2 separate regions of the Homo sapiens genome follow, and region 2 is linked to region 1. The links come from fine-mapping of genetic effects on gene expression. Tissue or cell type: pancreas. Region 1 holds a variant in brackets; the other region holds the start of a gene. All regions are shown on one strand. Distances are between the middles of the regions.

Region 1 (10,176 bases):
CGCTATGCCATGAGGTCATCCCGGACACCTGGGCAAGTTGTCCTGCTTAGCTGGGAATTTGGAGCCATGCTCAGCTGACACAGGAGGCAGGGAGAAAGAAAGCATTTAGGGCTTTCCTTTCTGCCTGTTCTCAGCCCCAGGAAGCAACCTGAGCGCTATACTGGGAGTCAGCAAGGCAATCAGCCACATGTGACCTCGAACCAGTCACCCACCTAGCTGAATCTGGGCATCTTCTGCAAAACAGTGCGGTTGAAGTAGATGGTACATTCATCCCTCCCTGCTCTGGCATGCTGAGTCTGAGGTGTTTTCTCCTGTCCTGCCTCTAAGAAAATCACCTCTTGTTTTTTTTGGATCATTGTCTTTCATTTCATGAGGGCCATTTCCTATTGGGCTCCCTCTTGACTTCTTAAGCAGCTCCCAAGGCCACTCTGACAATATCAGGCCTGCCGCCTCCTCTCACGCTGCCCCCCACAAAGGAAACAAAAACAATGGGAATCGCTTCTGCCCCATCTCGGATAGGTATCTGTGTTGTTTTGCTGGCCCTGCGGCTGTTTTTCCCAACCCCACCATCCGCTCTGCCCTGGGCTCCCTCCTGACCAAGGTTCCCAGTGGCAGAACAGTCAGGATTGGCCAGGAGAGGCCACTCCCGGCCTTCACCCCAGCCTCCCCACTCTGCACTTTAAATTCTGCTTCTCTCTCAAAGCAAGGGCCCCGCCTGAATGAAACCTTCCCTGATCTCAGCAGCTGGAATGAATCAGCCTCTGGACAGGGGAGCACGATGTGTGTCCCGATATTCAGCCCCTGTCTTATTCTGCTGCGTATGAGAATTACCTGTTCACAGATATGGTTTCCCCTACTGGCCCCAGCCTGATGTTTGCATATAGTGGGTGCTTCATGTTTGGCTGGGAGAGGGAAGGAGGGAAAGAAGAAGGCAAGAAAGGAAACAGTACAAATCTCTATAGGAGGCTTGGTACATCTAGGGCAACATTAGTCTCTGTTCATTGTTTTATGTCCAACATAAAAATCTGTAGGGAGTGTGTGGGCTCTGGGTACTTCCATTGGATAGCTCTGCTCAGGAACAAGGAAGTAGGCTGTGAGGGAGGTCTCCCTGGGTCACTGCTGACAGCCCTGAGAAAGCTGCTCCAACGGCCCTGCTGCTGCACTCAGGTACCCTTTGCCTGGAGCAGAGTGTTCAGAAAGTGTGCGTGGGTGGGAAGGGTGGGACCCTCAGCTATAGTTCTGGGGGCTGTCCACAGGCTGCCCTAGGTGTGGTCCGGATGTGGATGGCATTTGTCCCATGTGTTGCCTGGCCTGACTGAGGAACAGCAGGATGCCCAGGAGGAGCAGAGGGACAGGGAGCTGGGTTGGGGGGCGTGGAGCTGGGGATGGGGCCATCACGCAGGCCTCATGGGCCGTGTGAAGACTTGGCTCTTGCTCAGAGTGGGATGACGCACTGCTGCACGATTTTGAACAGAGGAGGGCAGGGCCCTAAAGGGAGAGACGCTCATTAGTTCATCTCACAGATGAGGACACTGAAGCAAAGTGACGAACTCGCCTAAGCCCCAGCCCCACCGCATCTAAGGTGTGACTTCCTCACAGCCCCCTGCTCATGACCAGCCCTGTCCGTACTTACTTCTCCATCAGTTTGCTCACTTGTTTGCAGGTTCACTCCCCCAACTCGAATGTCACCTCTGTGAGGGCAGGGACAGGTTTGTTCGCTGCTGAATCCTCATGCCTTCAACGATGCCTGGCATGGAGCAGGGGCTCTGTGTCCATCTGCTGAAGAGTGAATGAGATCTTGTGATGTCTTAGTCATGTGTGCTGCTGTAATAGAATACCACAGACAAAGTAATTTATAAAGAATAAAGTTATCTTCTCACAGTTCTGGAGGCTGGGAATTCCAAGGTCAAGGCATTGGCAGGTTCAGTGTCTGCTGAGGGCTGCTCTCTACTTCCAAGATGGCGCCTTGTTGCTGCGTCCTCTGGAGGAAAGGAAGGCTGTCCCCTCACATGGACAAAGGCAGAAGGGCAAGAGGGGTGAACTCTCTGTCAAGCTCCTTTATAAGGGCCCTAATCCCATTCATGAGGGAGGAGCCCTCGTGGCCCAATCACATTTTGAAAGACCCAACTCTTAATACCATCCCATTAGCAACACCTGAATTTTGGAGGGGACACATTCAAACCATAGTACTGATAAGATAGGAAATGTATATTTGGTCTCTGCCCCTGGTTCCTGTTACAGAGCTCCTAAAACTCTTATAATTTCCTGGGCGATAGGAACATATTTTGTTCTAATGAGGCACCTCTTGGTGGGCTCCTAGATGGGGGCTGGGCATCAGAAAGAACAAGCCATGTTTAGAAGCTTGGAGATTTCGGCCCCATCCCCCATCCTCTGAGAAGAAGGGAGGGGCTGGAGACTGAGTTAATAATTGATCGTGCCCATGTGATGAAGCCTCCAAAAATTCCCTGAGCTTCACTCAAGTGGTGGGAGTTGAACAATGAGAACACATGGACACAGGGAGGGAAACATCACACTTGGGGGCCTGTCAGGGAGTGGGGGCAAGGGGAGGGAGAGCATTAGGGAAAATACCTAATGCATGTGGGGCTTAAAACCTAGATGATGGGTTGACACGTGCAGCAAACCACCATGGCACATGTATACCTATGTAACAAGCCTGCATAGGTTCTGCACATGTATCCCAGAAATTAAAATTAAAAAAAATAAATGATTTAAAAAACAGAAAAAAAAATTCTTGAGGGCAATATATACCTCATTTACACTGATGTGATTATTACACATTGTATGCCTGTATCAAAAATATCAATATCTCAGGTACCCCATAAATATATACACTTATTATGTACCCACAAAAATTAGAAATGAACAAAATAGCCATTCTGACTGGTATGAAATGGTATCTCATTGTGATTTTGATTTGCATTTCTCTAACAGGATCAATTACACCCAACCTCAGCATCATAGAATATACTAATGTAAAAAACCTGCACATGTGCCCCCGAACCTAAAAGTTGAAATTAAAAATAAATAAATGAAATGAAACTTAAAAAAAATCCCTGAACTACAAGGTTCAGAGAGCTTCCTGGTTGGTAGACACATCACATGCTGAGAGGGTGGCACACCACAGTTCCTTGGGGACAGAAGTTCCTGCACTTGAGACCTTTCCAGACCTTGCCCTATATACCTCTACATCTGGCTGTTCGTCTGTATCCTTATCACAGCCTTTATTACGATAATAAACTGGTAAACATAAGTGTTTCTCTGAGTTCTGTGAGCCATCCTAGCATATTAATTGAACCTAAGGAAGAGGTCATGAGAACTCTGATTTATAGCTGGTTGATCAGAAGTATAGATGACAACCTACCACTTGGGATTGGCGTCTGAAGTAGGAGGCGGTCTGGCAGGACTGGGCCCTTAACCTGAGGGATCTGACTGACTCCAGGTGGCTCAGGTCCAAATCGATTGAATTATAGGACACCCAGCTGGAGTCTACCGGAGAAGTGTTTAGTGTGTGGGGAACATCTGGTCTCAGAAGTGTTTTGTGTTGAGTGTTGGGTGTGTGAGTAGGAAAAATACTTTGACTTTGTTCCTATCTCTTATAGTAAACAAGGACAGACAAACACAGCCCAGAGAGGAGGTGCTGGCATGACCGGTGCTGGGTTCTCTCCAAAAAGTCAGCACTCAAGCTCCCATACAAATTCTGGGGCTCCATGCCAGCCTGAAGTCCAATATGTGGGTGTCTGCTTAGGGTCCTACCCTAACCCACCGTGACACTGTACCTTGGAGAGTCAAAGAAGTGTGCTTGGCTCTATAGTGTCATTCATTACCAATTCCTTTCACCTACTGATTTATTTATTTTGAGGCAGGGTCTTTGTCACCCAGGCTGGAGTGCAGTGGTGCAATCACAGCTCACTGCAGTCTCAACTTCCTGAGTTCAAGGGATGCCCTGCCTCAGCCTCCCAAGTAGCTGGGACTACAGGCATGCACCACCATGCCCGGCTAATTCTTTCATCTATTTAGTCACTCAGACATTTAACAAATGTTACCTGACACCTGCTCTGCACCTGTCACTAGGCTGGGACAGTGCACAAGCAACCAGGGGCATGGTGCCTGCCTCCTTGCCTCCTACTGAGGGGCAGACCAAGGATAAAAGACAAATGAGTAGTCAGCTGCTATGGGGGAAGCAAATGAGGAGGCCTTAGCCTCCGGTGGATGGGCAGGGAGGCCTGTGGGAGGACTTGACAGCCTTGGGGCAGGCGCTCTGGGCAGGGATAAGAGCTGCGAGGTTGTCAGAAGGGATGCCTTCAGTGCCTTCAGGAGGGTGGGGGCTCAGCGTGGTTGGGAAGGGAAGCCAGTTTCGCTGGAGAGGGGAGAGGAAGGGAGTGGGGGTGGGAAGTGGAGGTGCCTTCTCCCCACTTCCTGTAGGCTGTATTGACAGCGAGGGGAAGTGAAGGGGAAACTTTTGATAGGCTCTAAGTAGTGGGGAGGCGTGGCAGTAGGATCCACTCCATGGTTTGAAAAGATCCCTCTAACTGCTATGGGAACAGGCTGGCCTGGGGTGTGCCTTGCTGAAGCAGAGAGGAGTGGAAGGGGCCTTGGGTGGTCCAGGAGCAATGGAAAAGAGAAAGCCCACTGGAGCCATATTGAGGAAATGGGTGCATTGGCTCAAGCCTGTAATCCCAGTGCCTTGGGAGGCCAGAGTAGGAGGATTGCTTGAGGTCAGGAGTTTGAGACCAGCCTGGGCAACATAGTGAGAACTCTGTCTCTAAAAAAATGAAAAATGTTTAGCTGAGCATGGTGACATGTACCTGTAGTCCCAGCTACTCAGGAGGCTGAGGCTGGAGGATCCCTTAAGCCCAGGAGTTTGAAGCTGCAGTGAGCTATAATTTTGCCACTGTACTCCAACCTGGGCAACAAAGAGAAACCCTGTCCCCAACCCCTTTGCCCCCCTACCCCCCAAAAAAGGAAAGGAAAGAAAACAGAGGTAACAAAATTTGTCT[A/G]TGTAAGTGTGGGACTTAGGGAAAGCGTGGAACCAAATAATTCTCTGGGATTTTGGTCTGAGCGACAGGGAAGGCACCAGCTGGAGGAAGAAACAGGAGAATGTGGAGACTTTTGAGCCCAAGGCCAAGATTACTGTTTATTTGTTTAATTTGCACAATGCCTCTATGCTGGGCCAGAAAGACAATGTGCAAAGCCAAGCTCTGGGGTTTTCTGCTGCAGCCAAAGTATTTCCTGTGCCCTTGTCATTTTTACCTTGGAACCTGTACAGTCACATGGTTGGCCCCGTCCCTGACCTTGTCCTCCCTGGGGGAGACAGAGACTTACTGTACACACACTCCCCATTGGTGTCTCCTGGCTCTGGAGTCTGCTTCAAGGCACATTTCAGGCCCTCCTGAAGGGGACAGAAGTGGTGCCTTTTGTGCATATAAGGCAGAACTGAGTGGAGGAAATTAACACGCGCGCCTCAGTAAAATTCAGGCCCTGCTAGGTGCTCAGTATCACGTCATTTAATCCTCATAAGAGCCCAGTAACATAGATGTTATTATCCTTCTTATTCAAATGAGGAAGTGAGACCGAGAGGCCTCTCCTTGCACAAGGCCCCACAGGAGACATCTCAGGCTGGGTGGATTCCACACCGTTCTTGGTCATGCCTTCCCTCCAGATAGATCCCGAAAGGCTTTTTCTGCTCTGGTTCTCCCACTCCCCTCAACACACACATACATTTTATGCTTGTCATCCAGGTGGACTTTACACTAGGCAGTTCCCCTTTCCCAAGCACTTCTCTTCCCATTTGAGGGTCTGTGGGTTCCCCATGTTGATTTCTCCAAAACTTAGGGAAGAAACAACTTTGTGGCTTCCAAATACAGTATTGGGTTCAGTGAAATCCCCCTCTCCTTAGGGAAATATGGGCAGCAAAAAAAATGTTTTTTTTGAGACGGAGTTTCCCTCTTGTTGCCCAGGCTGGAGTGGAATGCAATGGCGCGATCTCAGCTCACTGCAACCTCCACCTCCCGGGTTCAAGCAATTCTCCTGCCTCAGCCTCCTGAGTAGCTGGGATTACAGGCTCCCGCCACCACGTCCGGCTAATTTTTTTGTATTTTTAATAGAGACAGGGTTTCACCATGTTGGTCAGGCTGGTCTTGAACTCCTGACCTCAGGTGATCCACCCACCTCGGCCTCCCAAAGTGCTGGGATTACACGCGTGAGCCACGGCTCCTGGTCGGGCAGCAACTTTTATGCAGCGCACCCCCTTGTTATTCAGTTAAGGGGTGATGTTTCAGGCAGAGGCTGAGGGAAGGGAGAACTGCTCCTGGGGAAATAGAGTTTAGATGGATCCGGATTGGCTGGAGCCATAGGCTCACACTCTTAGAGATGATTGCTCTTGCGGGGAGCCAGCCAGGTGAGCTTGGGCACAAAGATCTCTAGGGGCCCCTGCACCCAGGATAACACTGCGTGGTGGACCCAGACGTGCCTGCAGATGAGTTACTTTAAACCTTTCAAGGCTTTAAATGTCCTAAAAGTGTTTTTGTTTGATTACTATTTATTGTTCGTCTTCTGAATATTTACTCACAGAAGATTTGAATGGAGGAAAGAGGGATATGAAAAACACTGGTAATTCCACCACTCAGACATACGGTGATGGACATTTGCTAGATCATTTGATGCCTTCTCCAGCACACTGTGAAGTGACTGTGTGGAATGAACCATAATCTTCTATTATTGCTTGTTCGGGAGGCCTCCAGTGTTCTCTTCTGGATAGATCTCTGCAAGATCTTTGCTTCCCAAACTGCACACCACTGTGCTGTGCTGGAAGCATGAGAAACCAGACGACAAACGGGGTCTGCGGGCTTGGAGCTACTGTTTATGTGATGGAGGAGGCATTTTAAATCTATCTGGAAAGGGTGGATTACTTGATAAATGATGATGGGACAATTCGCTATTTATGTAAAAAATAATAATTTAAATAGATCCCTATATCATGCCATATTCTCACCCAAATTTCAGATAGAACTGTGGGTTAAATTTAAAAAAAAGTGTGTGTGTAATATAAATTATAATATATGCAGAATTGAAACAAAACACTTGTAAATTAAAAGGAAAAAAAGAACATTGCAAATACATCCTCAATAATAATAGAAATGCAAATTAGCACAAAAATACACCATTATAACCTATTCAATTGACTTAAAAAAATCCATTGCTTCCTTATACAAACCCTTGGCTACAGCCAAACTTTCTGAACATGTCCTTCACAGTTTTTTTTTTTTTTTTGAGACAGGGTCTTTCTCTGTCGCCCAGGCTGGAGTGCAGTGGAGCCATCTCGGCTCACTGCAACCTCCGCCTCCCAGGTTCAAGAGATTCTCCTGCCTCAGCCTCCTGAGTAGCTGGGATTACAGGCGCCTGCCACCACACCTGGCTACTTTTTTTGTACTTTCAGCAGGGACAGGATTTTGCCATGTTGGCCAGGCTGGTCTCAAACTCCTGGCCTCAAGTGATCCGCCCACGTTGGCCTCCCAAAGTGCTGGGATTACAGGCGTGACCTACCACACCCGGCCATGTCCTTCACATTTCCATCTTTTCTGCCTTTGTCCATGATGTGATCAGCCTGCAGGACCACACGTCTAGGTCTTCTGTACTTTCCTACTTAGGAATTTTCACATTTTCAGGCCCAGCTGAAAGCTTTTTCTGAACCTCTCCCTATCTCCCTCTTCCTCTGGCTAGAGGACCCCTCCCACCTCTGAAATCCCTTAGCTCTGAAAGTGTTACTGATTTTACATTAGCTTATTGAACTGCAGTTTGCTTTATATTTGCATGCAAGGAATCCATTTTCCTGACTATAATGTAAGCCCTGTTTCTAAGTTGCTGCTGTATCCTCTAACAAACATTTTTATATAAGGACAGTCTTTTTAAAAAAAAACAGATTTAGTGGGATATCATTCACATATCATACAGTTTACCCATTTAAAGTGTATAATTCGATGGTTTTTACTATGTTTTCAGGGGTGTGCAAACATCACCAAAATCTAATTTAGAATGTTTTCATCACTTCAAAAAGAGACTATGTACCCATTAGTGGTCAATCCAAATTTTCTCCCAACCCCAGATACCTACCAACCAACTTTATTTTTCTATGGATTTGCCTATTCTGGACATTTCATATAAATGCAATAAAACAAAATGTGGCCTTTGATGACTAGCTTCTTTCACTCAGCGTGATGTTTTCAAGGTTCATCCATGTTGTAGCATGTATTAGTGCCTCATTTGTTTTCAGGGCTGAATAATATTCCATTGGTTGGATACATCACATTTTGTTCAGCCATTCATCCATTGATATTTGGGTTGTGTCTGTGTTTTTGTTTATTATGAATAATTTTGCTATGAACATTTGTGTACATATTTTGTGTGGACATGTATTCCCATTTCTCTTGGGTATACAACTATGTTTAACATGTTTTTCAAACCATTTTTTTTCCCTCTGTTCTCACATCAACACAGTAATAATGAACACAGAAGACTTCTATGACCTCAAAATATGTGGGTATTTCTCTCTACCAGCAAGCAAGCAATGAATTCTGTAGATGACACCCAAATGGTCATCCTCTAATTCAGTGCTGGTACTATCTACTTGGAGATAGTGTCAGATCTCACAGTTTGAGGGATCAGTCCCCTGAGACTGTGTCCCCCGCTTTAGACCCAGTCACAAGTCTGGGATTCCAAAACTTCTGATCAACCATCTTTAAGTTGGGGTTCCCATGCCCCCCTGGATTAATTTGCTGGATTAATTTGTGTTTGATTAGTTTGCTGGAGCAGCTCTCAGAACTGAGAAAAACAATTGTGTTTACAGGTTTATTATAAGGGCTATTACAAAAGATACAGATGAAGAGAGGCATAGGGTGAGGCATGGGGGAGGGAAAGCAGAACTTCCATGCCCTCTCCTGGCATGCCACCCTCCAGGATCTCCATGTTCCAACTATCTGGAAGCTCTCTGAACCATGTCCCTTTGGGTTGTCATTGAGGCTTTATTACATAGATACGGTTGACAACCATGTAGAAATGTGATTGGACAAAAAGTGCCTGATCTAAACCCAGTAAGCTTGTCTATTCAGACTTTTTGTGGCCTCTCTGCATAGCATTCCTTTCCCCAGGGTTTGAGGCAGGACTGCTTCTGGAATGAGAGTCTTTTGACCCACAGTTAGATTAAAGGCTTGCCTTGGGAAGGTGTAAAGAGGACAGGAGAAGGTCAGAGAGAGAGATTCTATTTCCTGAGGCCTGCTTCTGAGGCTAAAACACCTCAACATTATAGTAAAAGACTGTAACAAGGGCTAGTGGAGTTATTAGCCAGAAACCATAGAGGAAAACCTAAACATATAATCATAATATCACAAGTTATGAATGGAATTGCTGGGTTATTGGCAACTCCATGTAGAACATTTTGGAAAAACTGCCAAATTTTTTTCCATAGTGGCTACATCATTTTACATTACCATCAGGAATGTATGAGGGTTCCAGTTTATCTACATCTTCACCAGCATTTATTGTTATCTTTTTTATTATAGCCATCTTAGTGGGTGTGAGGTGATATTTCACCATGGTTCAATTTTTGTTTCCCTAATGATTAATGATGTGGATTGTCTTTTCTTATGCATGTTGGTCATTTATGTATCTTCTTGGAGTACTACCTATTCAAATGCTTTGTTTTAAAATTGAGTTACTTTTTCTGATTGTTGAGTTGTAGCAGTTCTTTATATATTCTGCATACAAGTCCCTTATATAATAAGATCTATAATGTGCCAATATTGTCTTCTACTCTGTGGGGTGTCCTTTCAATTTCTTGATGGTGTCCTTTGAAGTACAAAAGTTTTTAATTTTGATTTGTGAACTCCAAATATCTGAGAGGGTCTCAGTTAATTTAGAAAGTTTATTTACAAAGTTTGTTTTGCCAGTGTTGAGGATGCATGCCCATGATATAACCACACAAAGTCCTGATGACATGTGCGCACGGTGGACTCATGGAGAGCTAAAATGTCCGTGAATATCAAGCAAAACAGGAATTAACTGCATGGACTGTACTCATCTTTTTGACTTATTGCTTAAAACATTGCTGATCCTTTGTTTTGTTTTTCGGAGTCTTGAAACTTTTCTTTTGAGCTATTGACA
Region 2 (10,176 bases), 21 kb before region 1:
AGCAAGTTAGCTTAGACTAATCAGGTGCACTCCCGAGAGTTTTGGAAGGCAGAGAGGGTGGAAGCCATGCTTCAACTGTTTATGCTGCTTCTGCTGACAAGGGCAGTCCTGCAGATGTTGGGATTTTTTGTGCCAGAATGCCAGCGTCTGGTCCTCAGTCTCATGGGTATTTAGAGAAAGGGGAGGGGGTGCCTGTGTGTTGCCAGTGCAGACCAGCAGTCTGTTATGGATTAAATTGTGCCCCAAACCTCCCAATTCATAGGTTGAAACTCTAACCTCCAGTACCTTAGATGTGATTGTATTTGAAGATAGGGCCTTGAAAGAGGTCGTGAAGGTTGAATGAGCCTGGGTGTGGTGGTTCACACTTGTAATCCCAGCACTTTGGGAGGCCAAGGCAGTGAATTGCTTGAGCCCAGTTCAAGACAAGCCTGGGCAACATAGTGAAACCCAGTCTCTATAAAATCTACAAAAAAATTAGCTGGGCATGGTGGCTCAGGCCTGTAGTCCCAGCTGCTTGGGAGGCTGAGGTGGGAGGATGGCTTGAGCCCAGGAGACCGAGGCTGCAGTGAGCTGAGATCACACCACTGCACTCCAGACCCTGTCTCAAATTAAAAAATTTTTTAAAAAAAGGTTGAATGAGGTAATAAGGGTGGGGCTCTAATCCAATAAGACGGGTGTCCTTCTAAAAAGAGGAAGGACCAGGGATGTGCATGCACAGAACAAAGGTGATGTGAGGACAGAAAGAAGGTGGCCATCTGCAAGCCAGAGAGAGAGGCCTGAGGAGAAACCAAACCCACGGACACCTTGTACTCAGACTTCCAGCCTCCAGAATTCTGAAAAATAAATTTCTGTTGTTTAAGCCACCAGACTGCAGTATTTTGTTATGGCAGCTCTAGCTGACTAACACACAGGCAAGGCTGGGACTGTAGCTAACTGTCGGGATTTGGGAGCTTGCTAGGTGGCAGCTGAGGTGCTAATGTCCTTACAGCCACCAGGTCCAGTGGCAGCCTCCTGGTGCCCAGCTTCCTCACTACAGCACAAGTAACAGCTCAGTGGTCATTCTAGGAGTTACACTGGAGATGGCCCAGCCTAGAGCTTGCTATTCTAGCCCTTTGTGAAATGTGGAAGCACTGAAGTCCGTATATCAAATCCTGTATCCACATGGCCATCTTAAAGGCTCAGGATAGGAAAACCAGTTGTCATAGTCCGTTCAGGCCACTATAAAAAACATCATAAACTGGGTAACTTGTAAACAACAGAAACTTACTTCTCAGAGTTCTGGAGGTTGGCAAGTCCAAGATCAAGGTGCCAGCTGATTCTATCTCTTGCTGCGTCCTCATAAGGCAGAAGGGGTGAGGGGTTTCTCTCTTGGGCCTCTTTTTATAAGGACATTAGTCCCATGAGGGCTACATTTCATGACCTAATCACCTCCCAGAGGCCTCCCATGCCCAATACCATCAACTTGGGGTTAGAAATTTAACACATGAATTTGGGGGTTGAAGGGGGGACACAGACATTCAGACCATAGCATTGGCATGGAACCACAGGACCCTTGGAGATTGAGAAGGGCATAGGTGATCAGGGATTCAAGGGTATTTGCTGGGTCATAACCAGTAGAGTAGAATGTTTCCAGTGAGGGCCTGTAAAAAACTATGGACAACCAGCTTCAAACACCTGGTAGGCCTTGTGGGTGAGACAACACCTTGGGCAATACTAGCCATGGAAGATGTTTTCTGCACTCTTCTCTGTTTTGGCCCTGGAAGAGTCAGAAACCAGTTTACAAGCTTGGGAGACTGAGAAACACTAGGTGGGGGAAGCAGAAGAGAAATTGTTGTTTCTCCCCAGTCCCTACTCTCTCACCACCACTGCACACAGGTACACACCCACATCAGGTGCTGCCTGAGGAGAGAAGATTTACTTTAAATCAAGTTCAAGGTTCTGAGTATTACATGGAATTGAACATTATACGATTTAGGATTATATAGATGAAGATTATGTTTAGTTATTTATTTGTTTATTTTTATTTTATTTTTTTTTTTGAGACAGAGGTTGGGACTTATTACTTCTGTGTGAATAGAAAAACTACAGGACTGCTGGGCGTGGTGGCTCACGCCTGTAATCCCAGCACTTTGGGAGGCCTAGGCGGGTGGATCACTTGAGGTCAGGAGTTCGAGACCAGCCTGACCAACATGGAGAAACCCCGTATCTACTAGAAAATATAAAATTAGCCAGGCATGGTGGCGCATGCCTCTAATCCCAGCTACTCGGGAGGCTGAGGCAGGAGTATCACTTGAACCTGGGAGGCGGAGATTGCCGTGAGCCAAGATCGCACCATTGCACTCCAGCCTGGGCAACAAGAGTGAAACTCTGTCTCAAACAAACAAACAAACAAAAAACCCTACAAGACTACCTAAGTTTTCACCGAGGAGCAAGAGACTCATTCTCTGAACAGAATAACTTGTAGAGAGACAAGGGAATGCAACATAAAGACAGTTTCTGATTACATCTCCTTAAATTCTGCTTGTTCACTGGTTATAGAGACTTAATCTGGAGATCAATTTTTAATTGTTCTAGTGTTTTGCCTTTAAAGGCAAACTAAATGTTGTTGTGATATTTGAACAGTATTTTGTACTGACAAAAACACATTTTAGGCCCATGGATGTTCTACCTTCGTCTCTATTTGTATTAGTCCGTTCTTGCACTGCTATAAAGAAATACCTGAGACTCAGTAATTTATAAAGAAAAGAGGGTTAATTTGCTCACAGTTCTGCTGGCTATACAGGAAGCATGATGGCTTCTGCTTCTGGGGAGGCCTCAGGAAACTTACAATCATGGCAGAAAGTAAAGGGGAAACACGCAAACATGGCCAAAGAAGGAAGATGAGAGAGAGAAGGGGGAGGTGCACACCACCCACTTTTAAACGACCAGATCTCGCGATAACTCACTCACTATTACTAGGATAGCACTGAGGGGATGGTGCTAAGTCATTCATGAAGGGCCACCCTCATGATCCAATCACCTCCCACCAGGCCCCACCTCCAACAGTGGGGATTACAATTCAACATGAAATTTGGTGGGGACATAGAACCAAACTATATCACCATTTGATAAGCAGCCTAGGGTTCTTTGAGGTCGGTTTTGTACAAAAAAAAAAGGGACTACAAGGGTCTCTGTTTGTTTATAAAGTAATAGTTGCTTTAGCAAAATTACAAATCTACAAATCTACTTTCTCTTAACCTTTTAAATTCAAATTACATACTGTTTTAAACTATTTACTCACCCGATAAAATTTTACAATTACTGTAAGGAGGCACTTTTACTGTTTAGTTAATTCTCCTAAACATTTCAAGCAACTTTTACAAATTTAATATTTGACTTTCTTTTCAAGTACTTCAATTCTATAACAAAACTCTAAGTAATTCTTATAAATATAGTAAGTTAAATTCATTTTCATACCCATTTCACCTGAAATTGAATTGTACATAAATTTTATATACTATTTTACATATAAAGACTCTATGTTTTTAAGATTAAATATAAGTCATTACTTATTACCTTATTACATAAGTTAAATAAAAGCGTAAATCAATTAGCTGATTACTTTTTTTTTTTTTTTTGAGACAGAGTCTCACTCTGTTGCCCAGGCTGGAGTGCCGTGGCACGATCTCCGCTCACTGCAACCTCTGCCTCTTGGGTTTAAGCGATTCTCCTCCTCAGCCTGCCGAATAGCTGAGACTACAGGAGCACGCCACCATGCCTGGCTAATTTTTGTATTTTTAGTAGAGACAGGGTTTCACTATATTGGCCAGGCTGGTCTCGAACTCCTGACCTCAGGTGATCCACCGCCTTGGTCTCCCAAAGTGTTGGGATTACAGGTGTGAGTCACCGCACCGAGCCACACATTTTCACTTTTTTAGAAATGGGGCCTACGTTGCTCAGAACTCCTAGCCTCAAGGGATCCTCCCACCACAGCCTGTGGAGTTGCTGGGATTACAGGTGAAAGTCACCATGCTGGCTCACATTTTAAGTTGGAATCACAAAACTAATTTCTTTTGCATCCTAGTGAACTAAATTGTCGTAAACATTGTATGTGCTTATACCAACATATACACGTTATTCTTAAATTTAATCACAAACTTTAATGTTAAAATATCAGTGTATCTAACAATCTATGTTATTTTATACCTAAGTATTTTTTTGAGATGGGATCTCACTCTGTCGACCCCTTTGGAGCGCAGTGGCACAATCATAGCTCACTGCAATCTCCACCTTCCAGGATCAAGCGATCTCCCTACCTCACTGGGACTACAGGTAAACTTTTGTATTTGTTTTTCTATTTCTAGAGATGAGGTCTCCCTGTGTTGCCCAGGCTAGTCTCAAACTCCCAGGCCCAAGCGATCCTCCTGAATAGCTGGGATCACAGGTGTGCGCCCCTACGCCTGGCTAATTTTTTTTTTTTTTTCTAGAGATGGAGGTCTCACTATGTTGCCCAGGCTGTTCCCCAACTCCTGGGCTGAAGCTATCCTCCCGGCCTCTCAAAGTGCTGGGATTACAGGCGTGAGCCACTGCTTTCGGCCCTTAATTCTACATTAGCCAGAATTCAAAGGCATTTACCCACTTAAGAAAATAGGGCACTCTCAGCTTGTTGAGATTCACAGTACACTGATAATGCTTATCTCACAGAGAGATATTCCTGAAAATCATGATTTTAAAGACTGCGCCATATGCTGGCATGTCTGCACCAGAATTTCCTTTGCGCCTCCCTGTTGGTTTGCTCCACTTTTTCACTGAGTCAGACCGTTGAACACCGTGGACACACTGTCTTGCGTTTCCGAATATTTCCTAGAATACGGACGTTTCCTAAGACTCACGATAAAGATTTTCTGATCGTCTCTCCAAAACCTTGCCACCAATTTGCACTCCCACGAATCCTGTTACCGTGACTATCTCGCCATGCCCTCCCTAGCACTGAGCGTGATCTCTAGTATCATTTTCCATCGTTGCTAATTTGAACATGAGCAGATGGAGTCCTATTATTTGGGGTCATTAATTTCGTAGCAAGTGCAGTTGAAGGTGTTTTGCATGTTCATTGTGCAGTGCGCGCCGTAGTCTGCACAGTTTGGCCGGCAGGTGGGATGAAGGGCGGGGCTGGCGGAGCGCGCCCGCCGCCTGGTAGGCCAGTTCGGAGCGGAGCCAACGCTATCCCGGGCCCCACGGCCAGGGGGCGCTGCGGCCCCCCCAATCCCCCGCCCCGTCCGGGCTGGGGCGGAGGAGCGGGCGGGGACCAAAGGTTGGTGTCTTTGCGCTCGGACCTTCGCCAGAGGGGCCGGGACATCATGACGGTGGGAGCCAGGCTCCGAAGCAAGGCGGAGAGCAGCCTCCTGCGCCGCGGGCCCCGAGGGCGAGGGCGAACCGAGGGGGACGAGGAGGCGGCCGCCATCCTGGAGCACCTGGAGTACGCGGACGAGGCGGAGGCGGCGGCCGAGAGCGGGACGAGCGCGGCGGACGAGCGGGGCCCGGGGACCCGGGGCGCGCGGAGGGTGCACTTCGCCCTCCTGCCCGAGCGCTACGAGCCACTGGAGGAGCCGGCGCCGAGCGAGCAGCCCAGGAAGAGGTACCGGAGGAAGCTGAAGAAGTACGGCAAGGTAGGGGCCCTGCGCCACCACTGCCCGGGGGGCGCGGGTGTGGTGTCCCGCGGGGGAGCGGGAGCCGGGTCCTTACCATCGACTCACCCAGTTTCTCCGGGCTGCACCTGCGACCCCTCCGCCCCCGCTCCCATTCCCTCGCCGGAGGGAAGCCGCGAGTTGCGAGTCGTGATAGAAACTTAAATCGGGGGTTGCGCTGGGTGGTCCCTGCTGTGCCTGCTATTGCGCTCCTGGCTTCTTAAGAACATTCTCAAGGGGCTCCTACCGCGGTGGTTTTTATGTAAGATCAGGAATCAGTTTCCTGATTACAGATGGGAATACTGAAGCGTTAGCGCGGCAGGTGACTTGGAGAAGGTGGCCCAGTTGGAAAGAAAGAAATTGCAACCCAGTGTATTTGTTTTCCAGTAACATCCCCTCCAGGATATCCCACTAGTTGAGAAATGTTTGGGTTACTCTCCCAAATATTCCCAAGGTTATTTCCCGAGCCTGGGAGCGCAACAAATACATAAATAGGCGCTCGTTGAATTTTTCTCGTCTAGCCAACTATCAGTGTACTCTGGGGCCTTCAAAACATTCTGCCGTTTGTCTCGGGGAGATGGGGTTAGGAAGAATGAATATGGGAGAAAATGACAGTTTCCTTCGCGGAAATCAAAGCGCAGATGCAGTTCCCAGGTGTCTCTGCATGGAAACAGTCGAAGCTGCTGCCGGAAGCTCTGCTGGCCTGGACAAGGCCACCCAGAATAAAGTCACAGAAGTTACTGTGTCCTGGCCAAAGGCCACGGGCCCCATCTGATTTATTGTCTATTTATCTGTGTTGCCCAATGCCGTCTTACACCTGAAGCCATTCAGTCTCCATGCCTGGGAGCTTAGGTTTATCATCCTCTTTAAAGGTATGTCAGCAGCTTCTGGAGCAGAATACAGGCAGGGGTAAAACTATAAAGTTGGGTCTTTCAGGCTTAGAGCCCTGCTAGGACGATTCATCTCTGCTTTGGGTCCCAGTTGAGCACAAAGAAGCCATCATGTCCCTCTCCATTGGTGAACTGATACTGCAGAAACCTCAGCTCAAGGACTAGGACTTGAAGATATTTTGGGGGCACTCATTATGCGTCAGGCATTGTGCTGAGCAGTAGAGATGCGAAAATGAATACAGTGCAGCCCTGCCCTAGAGAAGGGCACAGCCTCCCAGGGAGACACTGACATAGCTGGCTCCCCCCGCCCCCGGGGGGGCTTCAGGGCACAGAGCTCAGGCAGTTCACTCCTCAGCGGTGAGCTTGTAAACTCAGGGAAGTTTTCAAATCACGGTGACATGAAAACTGGGCACAGAAGGATGAGTTAAGATTTCACCAGATAACAGTGAAGTGGTATGAAGTAGGCACACTTCATCCCCACTAGAACGGCTACTCCAAAAAATGTCCAAACAAACCGAATAACAAATGTTGGCGAGAATGTAGAGAAATTGGAACCATTGTACATTGCTGGTGGGAATGTAAAATGGGACAGCTGCTGTGGAAAACAATTTGGGAGTTCCTTAAAAAGTTCAGTGTAGACTTATTCTGTGATCTAGCAGTTCCACTCCTAGGGATGTAACCAAAGAATTGAAAACAGGTACTCAAATCAATGTTTATATACACATTTTAATGGAATTATTATTTACAATAGTCAAAAGGTGGAAACAACCCAAATGTCCCTAAATGGATGAATGCATAAACAAGTGTGTTATATACATACAATGGAATAGTATTCAGCCATAAAAGGAAGGAAATGTACTAATCCATGCTACAATATGATGAACCTCTAAAAATATTATGCTAAGTGAAGTAAACAAGACCCGCAAGATCACATATTGTGCGTATGATTCCATTTGTATGGAATGCTTAGGATAGGTCAACCCATGGAGATGGAACACAGATTGGTGGTTGCCAGGGACTGCGGGAAAGAGGAATGGAGCCCATCTGCTTAATGGGTAATGTGTTTTTTCCTGGGGATGATGAAAATGTTTTGGAACTAGATAGAAGTGGTGGTTGCACAACAATGTAAATGTACTAAATGCCACCGGGCTGTACGCACTTTAAAATGGTGAATTTTATGTTATGTGAATTTTGCCTTAACTAAAACAAACAAAAAAAACAAGATTTCAGTGGATAGAGAAGTGGTGTCATCTCAGGTAGAGGGGCCATCACAAGCCCAGCTGTGGGCATGAAAGCTCTAGAGTGTTGCACGCTAGTTCAATGGACCCAGGAGGCCAGGTGAGAGGATGTCGTCAGGTTAGGGTTGGATCTCTCCTTTCTGCCCTTCAAAAGTGACTTCAGCTTCTACTTTCTTGGAGCCACCTGAGAGGGTCACCAGGCTCAAACATGGAGATATAAAGCAGGTGACCCCTCTTTGTTCCCCGAGACCCCAGCTCCCCTCTGAGAGAGTAGTTGGGTAGAAAGCTCTACTCAGATCAAAGAATTCCAAATGCACTCTCTTAAATGACACTGAAATAGTGGTTGAGAGATATTTTATGTTTCTTTGCATTTCATTTCTCAAATCTGTGTTTTTAACAGTGTTCCAGTTAATGAACTATTTTAGTAGATTTTTTTTCCCTAAATTACAAAGTGACAAGTAGCTTTTAAAGTATAACAGGCTGAGCAAAATGGATGTACAAATACCAAAAATGTCACGTTTAATGCAGGCGATTGTCATTCTGATCTTGTTTATAATGGATCACTCTTGATTGTTAAGCTTGTTCCCAGAGAATATGTTTTTCTTTTGTTGTTTCAAACATGTAAGTAAAATTCCCCCAGTGATTCTTATCACACATTTAAAGAACTGTATCTCTTAGCAACATCACATACCCACACATGCGCATGCCCCAGCCCAGTGTCTCTTTGAGACATCAACAGGGTAATGTCCAGGAAAGCAGTGTCTAGAGAAGACACAGACATTACTTGGTTCTTGCAAAGCTCCTCATTTAGCGGGAGAGGTACCAAAGGAAACACTCAGCCTCTTTCTACATGCTCAGGATACAGTAATGAGCACAACAGAGTCCCTGCCCTCCTTCTGTTACTGTGAGGGACCCTGTAATTTAAACTATTGAAAGCTCAGCTGGGTGTGGTGGCTCACACATGTAATCCCAGCACTTTGGGAGGCTGAGGCGGGTGGATCACCTGAGGTCAGGAGCTGGAAACCAGACTGACGAACATGGTGAACCCTGTCTCTACTAAAAATACAAAAAGATTAGCCTGGCGCGGTGGTGCATGCCTATAATCCCAGCTACTTGGGAGGCTGCAGCAGGAGAATCGCTTGAACCTGGGAGGTGGAGGTTGCAGTGAGCTGAGATCGCGCCATTGCACTCCAGACTGGGCAACAAGAGCAAAACGCGGTCTCAAAAAAAAAAAAAAAAAAAAAAGCTCAAGTAAGCCAGAAGTCATAGGAAATTATAGTCTTAAGAAACTTTCCCAAACAGACAACAAAAATATTGGGTTTATCTATCACCACCACAAACCTAAATTGCTATGTAATCAAAAGAAGCAGATGTTATTTAGCAGTAATAATAGCTGACATTGGGGGGCACTTATACTGCCTGCAGTTTGTGCCAGGCCCTGTTCTCAGTGCTTTGCTTACATGATCTCATTTACTCCTCTTAACAACCCAATGAGGTGGTTACTAAATATTCCCATTGTATAGGTGAGGAAACCGAGGCCATGGGAAATTAAGTAAGTGATAGAGTTGGAATTCAAGCCCAGGGCATGAGTGGTTAACTAGAAGCTTACATATTGCCTTTATTTAAAAAGGGAAACATAGTATGGGGGTTAAGGTCATAGGCCCTGAAGTGAGATTTCTTTGGGATTGAACTTCAGCTCTGCCCCTAACCAGATATATACATGTGGACAGATGTAATCTCTCTGTGCTTTGAATGATTGAAGTCTGATAGACAAAGGCCACCAGGGACATGCCAGTAGCCAATCCACGTTAGGTTTATGTGCTTAGGGCTACAAGGGAGAGTGCATGCCAGAGGAATTGTGGGGTCTTCAAAAAGTGGAGATCTCAAGTAACGAATTGAATATTTGAGTCTGAACTAAAGAGTTCTTCAAATCTAGGAGATACTTGTAGTCATTAGAAATGGATGAGACCATCTAAGGAGAGACTGTAGGGAAAGAAAGAGAGAAGGAAAGACCCAGGACTGAGTATTGAACAACACCAACATTTTAAAGTCTGGTAGAAGGGATAATTTAGCAAAGAAAGCTGAGGAGGAGCTCCCTATTTAGGTAGGGGAGAACTAAGAATATGGAGTCAAAGACGCCACATGATTATTTCATAAAGTATGTCAAAAGCTGCTGAGAGGTCAGGGAGAGAAAGACAGAAAAGCGTCCACTGGGTCAGGCAGCATGGGGGTTGTAGATGGCCATGACCAGACAGTCCCTCATGGGTTGGGGTAGGAGCCGGAGTCAGAGGGAATAAGAAGCGCAGACATGGAGGCAGTATATGTGGTTGGCTCTTTTGGCTGGCTTGGCACGATGGAGGGCAGAGACTGGGGCAGGATATGGAG

What was found. PIP is the estimated chance that this variant, and not a neighbour inherited with it, causes the effect.
Region 2: it holds the start of C1orf115, and the variant in region 1 is fine-mapped to the expression of C1orf115 in pancreas (GTEx, PIP 0.91).

The regions. Positions count from the first base shown.
Region 1 is chr1:220,706,006-220,716,181 of GRCh38, forward strand. No RefSeq gene overlaps it. Among named protein-coding and RNA genes, the nearest start is that of C1orf115, 21 kb to the left of the region's middle. The variant A/G (reference allele first, on the strand shown) is at 5,019.
Region 2 is chr1:220,685,067-220,695,242 of GRCh38, forward strand. It overlaps C1orf115 (chromosome 1 open reading frame 115), which reads left to right and starts at 5,297. Exons shown (of 2, transcript NM_024709.5): 1 at 5,297-5,645. The coding sequence starts at 5,337. RefSeq lists a silencer at 5,128-5,367.